Homo sapiens: one gene and its partner. The protein of the gene in region 2 purifies or fractionates together with the protein of the main gene of each other region. This does not show direct contact. Each region holds a gene or a part of one and is shown on either strand. Other genes may lie near its edges.

Region 1 (4,338 bases), on a different chromosome or scaffold from region 2:
TGTTTAAGGTGGAAGATGTGCTTTTTGTATATAAAAAAGCACATCTCAAACTTCATCTCAAACTCATTTGCCCTTTACTTCAATCCACCCAGCTATATTTTAGTGTAATTCCCAAATGTTCTAAGAAACGCTGGAAAATAACAAAACACTGTGGAAAATTTTTCTTTAAATAACAGATATATAAACAGGTATTTTGATCTCACCTTAATAAGAGCTCTCATATTTTAGTTATGACCACACAAATTAAACCTTCTTGCATATACACAATGGTACATCTATGACAATTAGAGATAAATGCCTAACCCCACTTCCTTTTGCAGCAGAGGGGTGATACAGATCTGTCAACAGCTATGAATGTTAAAATAATTTTAAAAATCCTACTAAAAGGGCAAGAATTCAAGTGCTGAGAATCCAAACAGACTTCATGGATCCCACAGACAGTCCAATGACCCCAGGGATGTTTCTAAAATTGTTGAACTCCTATGTTTACTGTTCTCTTTCCTTCATTATCATTTACAAAAAGTTATAACAAATGTCCTAGACTAAGCCAGAAAAGCTTTATCTGATGAAAGGGATCATTCGGAAAGCCAATGTATGATAAAGGATTGAAAAACAAAAAAGACAGCTGGAAATAACCACCATAATGTTTCAACAACATTTATACATCTTTTTAATTAGATTAGCTTTACAAGCAACTTGAGAGCTCTTTCATAATGAAACACTGCTTTTCAAATTACATGACTTTATAGTCTATCTGTATATGAATCCTGAAAATCTTTGCCTACTCTTGATAAAGGTCTGTGTTTTACAGCTGGTTAATGTGTTGAATAAAAACAGCATTATGAAGCTTTATCTTTAACCAGGATTAAACACATATAGGCCACAAACAGTTTTAAATTTTGTTTGAAATAGAGTCCTGCTTGGTGACAAGTTAATAGTCCCACTAACATGAAATGAATGGATATTAAATAAATGGCCATCCTGATTTCTTGATCTTTTCACAATGATTCCTAAGAGAGTATATAAACTTTTCCAAAAAATATACAATTTAAGACCTGTCTGGCAAGCACAACCCACAGATAGTAGAATCTAATACTTTTTACAACTGTAGAGGTACACATTTGAATGACAACAGGGGCTCCCAAATTAAAAGGCTGTGGCTGTACATTTTGACAATCAAACAAACCTCCCATCAACATAAAACAATTTCTACTAACCCTAAAAAAGATAATGCTTTTGAGTTGTGGCCTAACGCCGCGCACTGTACTATAGACCAGATGGCAAAGACAACTTGCGCTCCTGGGTTGGGCTGGCAGAGGCACTTACTGTAGAGATGTGATGTTATCATCTGGAAGGAAGGGGAGGAAGTAGAACAAAACTGAATATGGGCGAGGAAAAAACAATAAACTATCACTTTCTCCTGCAAATTCTCCTAAGTGAGATCACTATACTGAACATTCAATCCCATCCTAAGTCCACTGTTGGCTTCACTACACAATTTTTTTCCATGTTTTACATGAATAGCAATGGCAATCTTTTAATAAAAATTACTGAGCTTCCCATAGAAAAGGTCTCAAATTGAATACAAACTATACAGATGCTAAAAATGTCTTAAGTTGAAATATACAGAAAATTTCTGTATACTCACATTTTGGCAAAGAAGATCAAGGACAGAGATAGAAAACCTAAGTGGGCAAGGTCTTACACCCATAATTCACGCAAAATATGGATACCACCCTTTAGGTTTTGCTAAAAAGCCTAGGAAAGTGAAGTCTAAGACATCCGTCCCAATTCATTCTTTAAATAACATGTATGTGAGGCCTTGTGTGATTTTCTAATATTCCTTCCTTGTTTAAAAAGTAAATAAGAAAACCCATGAAACAAAATAAAATTATCTGATTTTGCATCTGTTTTGTTTTTTTCTAAGCTAAGCATCTTTCAGTACAGGTAAGAAGGCTGGCATCACATCTGGGAAATGCCTTAACAGATATCTGAGGAGTTACTGCACATTCCGTCAGTAACACCACACTTCAGTTTCAATGTGTACATAATCTCCCCTTGATGCTCTTCAACAGAGACAAGGTTCTTGTCTGCAGATCAGATAGATCACAGTATTAGGAAAAAAACATAACAGCAAATTTGGAAGTACAATCAATTTAAGGAGAAGCAAAAGGAAAAGACTTAGAAATGGGACATTATTGTCTACATCTAGAGGATACATACACCTGAAAGCTTAAGAAAGCCCTTATCTTAGGAACTTGAAGCTGAGGATAATCTCAAGTTCACTTAGTGCCAGTCACTTTAGTTTTTTAAAAAATTTAACTTAAACCCCAGCCTAGGCAACATGGCAAAACCCCGTCTCTACTAAACATACAAAAATTAGTCAGGCATGGTGGTGTGTGCCTGCAGTCCCAGCTAGTTGGGAGGCTGAGGTGGGAGGATTGCTTGAACCTGGGAGGCGGAGGTTGCAGTGAGCCAAGAATGCACCACTCCCCTCCAGCCTGGGTAACAGAGCAAGACTGTCTCAAAAAAACAAAACAAAACAAAAAAATTTAAACTCTTCTTGTGTCTTTTTCCTTGTAAAACATTAACTAAAAGTTATTGGTAGTAAATGGTGACTGTTTTACAATTAGGTTTCGTTATTGACAATGTCAAAAAAAAAGCAGCAATCTTTAACAGTTCAAATTAGTGTAAGGAAGGACTACAAAACAATCTGATTTTTCAGTTGTAATTAAAGTGCTCCTTTTCTTATTTTAAGTAAAATAAAATTAATCATCAGTCACTGGCAACAATCATTATTAAGAGGTCTTTTAGGGCAAAATTTAATAGTATGAACAGGTTTACAAAAATAGATTGATGTTATTTTGAGGAATAATACTGTAATTTTTTCTCAATTCAGTTTAGATAAATTGTACCTAATATAGAAAAATTATCCCAAATTCAAACTTGATATAAAAAAGGGAGAGATGAAATGAACTCAGCTAGATAACAGATCTGGCAAAATATAAGAATGAAAAAAATTCTACACAGGGCACTTATTTCATATCCAGATGTAAAAACCATTTTCAATTAGTAGCTTATCTTCCTCCTGTAAGCAATCACAGATTTGAAGTTGATCATGCAGTACAAAGTCACAGCAGTCAAAATCTTCTGTTTGATGCAACACAAAAAGTTGTTTCTGTTTCCTTATTAAAATGCGAACTGGTTGTCTATTTTTCTTTATCCCATTTATTCGTATTCACAAGTTAACAAATAGTTAACAATATTGTAGGTGAAGTGGGGTATTGCTGGATCAAAGGCTCTAGAAGACGTCTTTACCGACCGAATCTGAAGGTTTATTGAGTTCAACCCTCACACCTTTTTCACCTGCAAGGTAAAAAAAAAAAAAATTTTCATTCATTCACTAAGCACCAGAGAGCTTCTGCTACTGCATTCCACTGAATTCCTAAGAGTATGGACAATATTTCAACTTTGCAAACATCATCTGAGAACTATCACGCTTGTACTTCCAAAAACTTCCCTCAGCATTCTATTGTGATGAGGTTTCAAATAGTAAACCTTCAAGGATAAAACCATCCTCTACACAGAGATAATGATTTTGTCTTTTTATTTTAAAAGCCATTTGAGTTTCTTCAACAGAGTGTTCAGTGTCTCTGAAAGCACACTGAGCTTGTGCCACAAATAATGGCTTTAAAAATACATAGAAAATGCATGAATATTCCATTTTTATGTAAGGTCGACGTGCGATTAGCAATGGCTCTGGAAAACACAGCTAATCAGTAATGTGAATACTCAGTGGATTTTTGGAGATAGAAAGTAGAGTTAAAGAAAAGAAGGTAAGTGGTCCATCAGATGGGAAACAGACCCCCTGCTCTTGGAGAGGCAGTCCATAAGTGGAAGAGAAGGGGAACTGGCATAATTAAAGGATCTTCAGGTTCAGTACAAGAGTGCTGACCTATGTACACCATTAGCAGATATGGAATCTACATGTCTGTGTCATTTACTGATTTTGGCATTTGAATTCATAATTCTTTGTATTAATTTTCTTCATGTCTACATTTAACATGGAAGACCTAGAGTACTGTTTAGAGCACATCCATTTGAAAAGGAAAGGGTATTAATTTAAGGAGTGAATGAGAGGAAACCATATGGCCGTTACCTAGAGTTAAGTGGCCTTTGACTGAAAAGGATAATCACAGAAAACTCAGTTTGTATGTGAATAATTTACTCAGACTTCTTTGCCTCAAATTTTCCACATCCTTTGACAATTTTTTTGGTTAAAGATAACAGTGAAGATGACTTATGTCTTCTTAAAAAATGAGGCAAATAAGAAATCTG
Region 2 (3,157 bases):
AGCAGGGGGAGGCCTCCGCGGCGCCCAGCGGGGTCCGGGACCCGGAGATAAGGATCTGATTTCCAGCGCCTGGAAGGGAAGAAGAGGTGACAGCAATTCAAAGAGCGCTCATCCCTCCTAAGTCCAGGCCGACCTTTGAAGTTAGACAGGCTTCTCCTCCTTCCCCTTCCCCAACCCAAATGGGTCTCAGCTTCCTCTCTGGCCCAATTTGAAATTTACTTCTCCTTGTGTCCGAGCTCTGGGATAGTCTCAATTTGTCCCGGGCACGACCCGAGCTTGGCGCAGTAGAGATGACCGTTGCTGAAGCCACGGCGCTGCCAGCGGCACCAGCGCTCTGCTTCAGAGGCCAGATCACGCAGATAATATGCCTCCTCTTGCCCTGAGGCTAAATTCATTGCAACGGTTTTTATCCGAGTGCTAATTTAAACTGCGCAGGCAAATCACGGCCAGCTCGTGGTGTTTTTACACCCCATTCCCAGGAAGGCCTCTTTCCTTAGGTCCCACCACACAGCCAGTGGCCCCCGTGCCAGCTTCCAGGAGAAAAGGTTTTCCTGGGTCAACATTGCCCTCATACCTCCTGGGAAAAGGCACTGCACATCCCTGGACAGAGCCAGGCTTTGAAAGCCTCGCTGCAGCGAAAGGCAGAGGAGTCTATGCCTGGGCCTTGCCCTGGGCTGAGGGTCAGCTCAACCTGGGGAGGGGGCACGCCAAACTAGGGAGCAGAGCAGAGGCCAGTGCATCCCAGGGAAGGGGAATTGCTCCATGTTAGAGGAAAGGACCTAGGAAGAGGAGAGTAATGAAGGGTAAAGGAAGAAGTCAACAGCAGGGGATTGAAGCTAGGCAAGAGAGAAGGGAGTCCCACGGACCCTGCTGTGACAATGACTTCTTAAGTAGCCCCAAGCTAAGAGCCAGGAGTTCAGTGCTTGGGCTTCCCAAGGCTCCCTGACAGTTTAGACTTTGCTCACCCTGTTCTTTCCTCCACTGGACACATCTAAATTAGGAGTGTCTGGGAGGTAGAGATGAAAAGCATTTTGCAGAGCTCAGATGTCTCCACGGAGGCTGGAGACCATGGCCAAGGAGGTCTGGAGATGCCAACCCCTGGTCACTTCAGTGTGGCTTTCCTCTGGCCTTGCTCAAGCTCTCCAACCTTGCACTTGGAGGTACATAGACCACAGGAATGGAGGCCTGGCCTCAGTGTTCTTGCCCATAGGCATACCCACCTGCCCAGGGCTCACAACACACAAGAACATGCTGACAACCCAAAGACTCAGCTCCCTTTTTCTTTGGGGGAGTGAGGGCACTAACACCCCCTTGTTTGTGACTGCAGTTGTTTGACAGAGTAAATGAATGTGGATATTAGCAACCTCCTTGAAAGCAAAGTGGTCCCCGAGGGCTAAGGCAAGGCAGAGAGTCAGTCCACAAGCAGCTGCAGAGAGAGTGGAGCCAACAGGTTTCACTTACACTAAGGCAGGGAAGCAGATTTAAGGTCAAAGTTGAGGGTTTTGAGGAGAAAGATGACAGGGCTTCTGGAAGCCAAATCGAAGGTCAGCCAGAAGACCTTAATGAATGGGAGCCAGGAGGTGCATGCATTTGTGCGCCTGTGTATGTGTGTTGTCTGTGAGGCTCTTCATGGGTGCAATGTGATCCCGTGTGTGTGTGTGTGTGTGTGTGTGTGTGTGTGTGAGATTCAGGGGTTCCTGCATTTTTTTAAAGCCAGTGTTGTACTATAAAACATTGGTTGTCCCAGTCTTTGCACCTTGTCAATTCTGCCTCAGAATGTCTGAATCCACGTGTGCAATTCTGTGTTTATCTGCAAATAAATGTGTAAGTATGTTCCCCAGCTCCTGTTATCTTTGCAGGAGATTGTGATTCTGTGTTGACCCGGGCTTACCTGGATGTCAATTTCTACAGGACAGGCAGTTTCCCTTTGCTTGTTCCTTTCTCAGTGTCTTGCATACAGTAGGCCCTTCCCTCTATCAAGTTGTGTGGCTCTGCCAGACGCCATTTGGAGGGAGCCCTTAGACCAAGGAGGGTTCTGAAAAGAGGGCTCCCCTGCGTCTTACATTCCCACCCTCTTTGTGAGGGCAGTGGGTTTTGGGAATGGGGTCTTAGACTCTTAGCTCCTGCGCTGGGTGTGAGGAGAGGGTGTGGCTCGGCTGGAATTCAGGAGGAAGGCGACCCACCCTGAACTTCTTTATTCCTCTCCACGCCCCTGCCTTCTTCTTTTCTTTGCAGATCCGGATTGAGAAGCCACTGCAACTACCGAAATGGGCAGCAAAACCTTGCCGGCGCCGGTGCCTATCCACCCTTCCCTGCAGCTCACCAACTACTCCTTCCTTCAGGCAGTGAACGGCCTGCCCACAGTGCCTTCGGACCATCTGCCCAACCTGTATGGTTTCAGCGCGTTGCACGCTGTGCACCTGCATCAGTGGACGCTGGGCTACCCGGCCATGCACTTGCCGCGCTCTTCTTTCTCCAAAGTGCCGGGCACGGTGTCCAGCTTGGTGGATGCGCGCTTCCAGCTGCCCGCCTTTCCCTGGTTCCCTCATGTCATTCAACCCAAGCCCGAGATCACCGCTGGAGGCAGCGTTCCAGCGCTCAAGACCAAGCCGCGCTTTGATTTTGCCAACCTGGCCTTGGCAGCAACGCAAGAAGATCCGGCCAAGCTCGGTCGCGGGGAGGGCCCAGGCTCCCCTGCAGGTGGGCTGGGTGCCCTCCTCGACGTGACCAAGCTGTCTCCAGAAAAGAAGCCCACAAGGGGACGTCTGCCTTCCAAGACCAAGAAGGAATTCGTCTGCAAGTTCTGTGGCCGCCACTTCACCAAGTCCTACAACCTACTTATCCATGAGCGGACGCACACCGACGAGCGGCCCTACACCTGTGACATCTGCCACAAAGCCTTCCGGAGGCAAGACCACCTGCGAGACCACAGGTGCGGCACTGCGGGTGGCGCAAGAGAGAGCTCTCTGCCTCTGGCCTCACCATCTTTCTCCCTAACGAGGTTCTTGAGACCCCCTACTGGCTCCAAGCCTCTGGAGCTTCAGGGAATTCTTTAAAATCAAGAAGGAAAGCCTAGGAGATCCAGGGATAGGTTTTGGAGCATGGGTTCAGGAAATGTGGGAATAAAGAGGACCCAAGATTAAGTGAGGTCTCCGTG

What was found.
Region 1: the proteins of OSR1 (region 2) and EGLN1 purify together in Homo sapiens (affinity purification with western blotting, with the first as the bait; 2 studies listed by BioGRID). This does not show direct contact.

What each region holds. Positions count from the first base shown.
Region 1 is NC_000001.11:231,363,110-231,367,447, forward strand, and holds the end of EGLN1 (egl nine homolog 1), read right to left. Parts: intron 3,367-4,338; coding exon 3,302-3,366; 3' UTR 647-3,301; downstream 1-646. UniProt on the Homo sapiens protein: Cellular oxygen sensor that catalyzes, under normoxic conditions, the post-translational formation of 4-hydroxyproline in hypoxia-inducible factor (HIF) alpha proteins.
Region 2 is NC_000002.12:19,352,916-19,356,072, reverse strand, and holds part of OSR1 (protein odd-skipped-related 1), read left to right. Parts: intron 1-2,235; 5' UTR 2,236-2,267; coding exon 2,268-2,932; intron 2,933-3,157. UniProt on the Homo sapiens protein: Transcription factor that plays a role in the regulation of embryonic heart and urogenital development.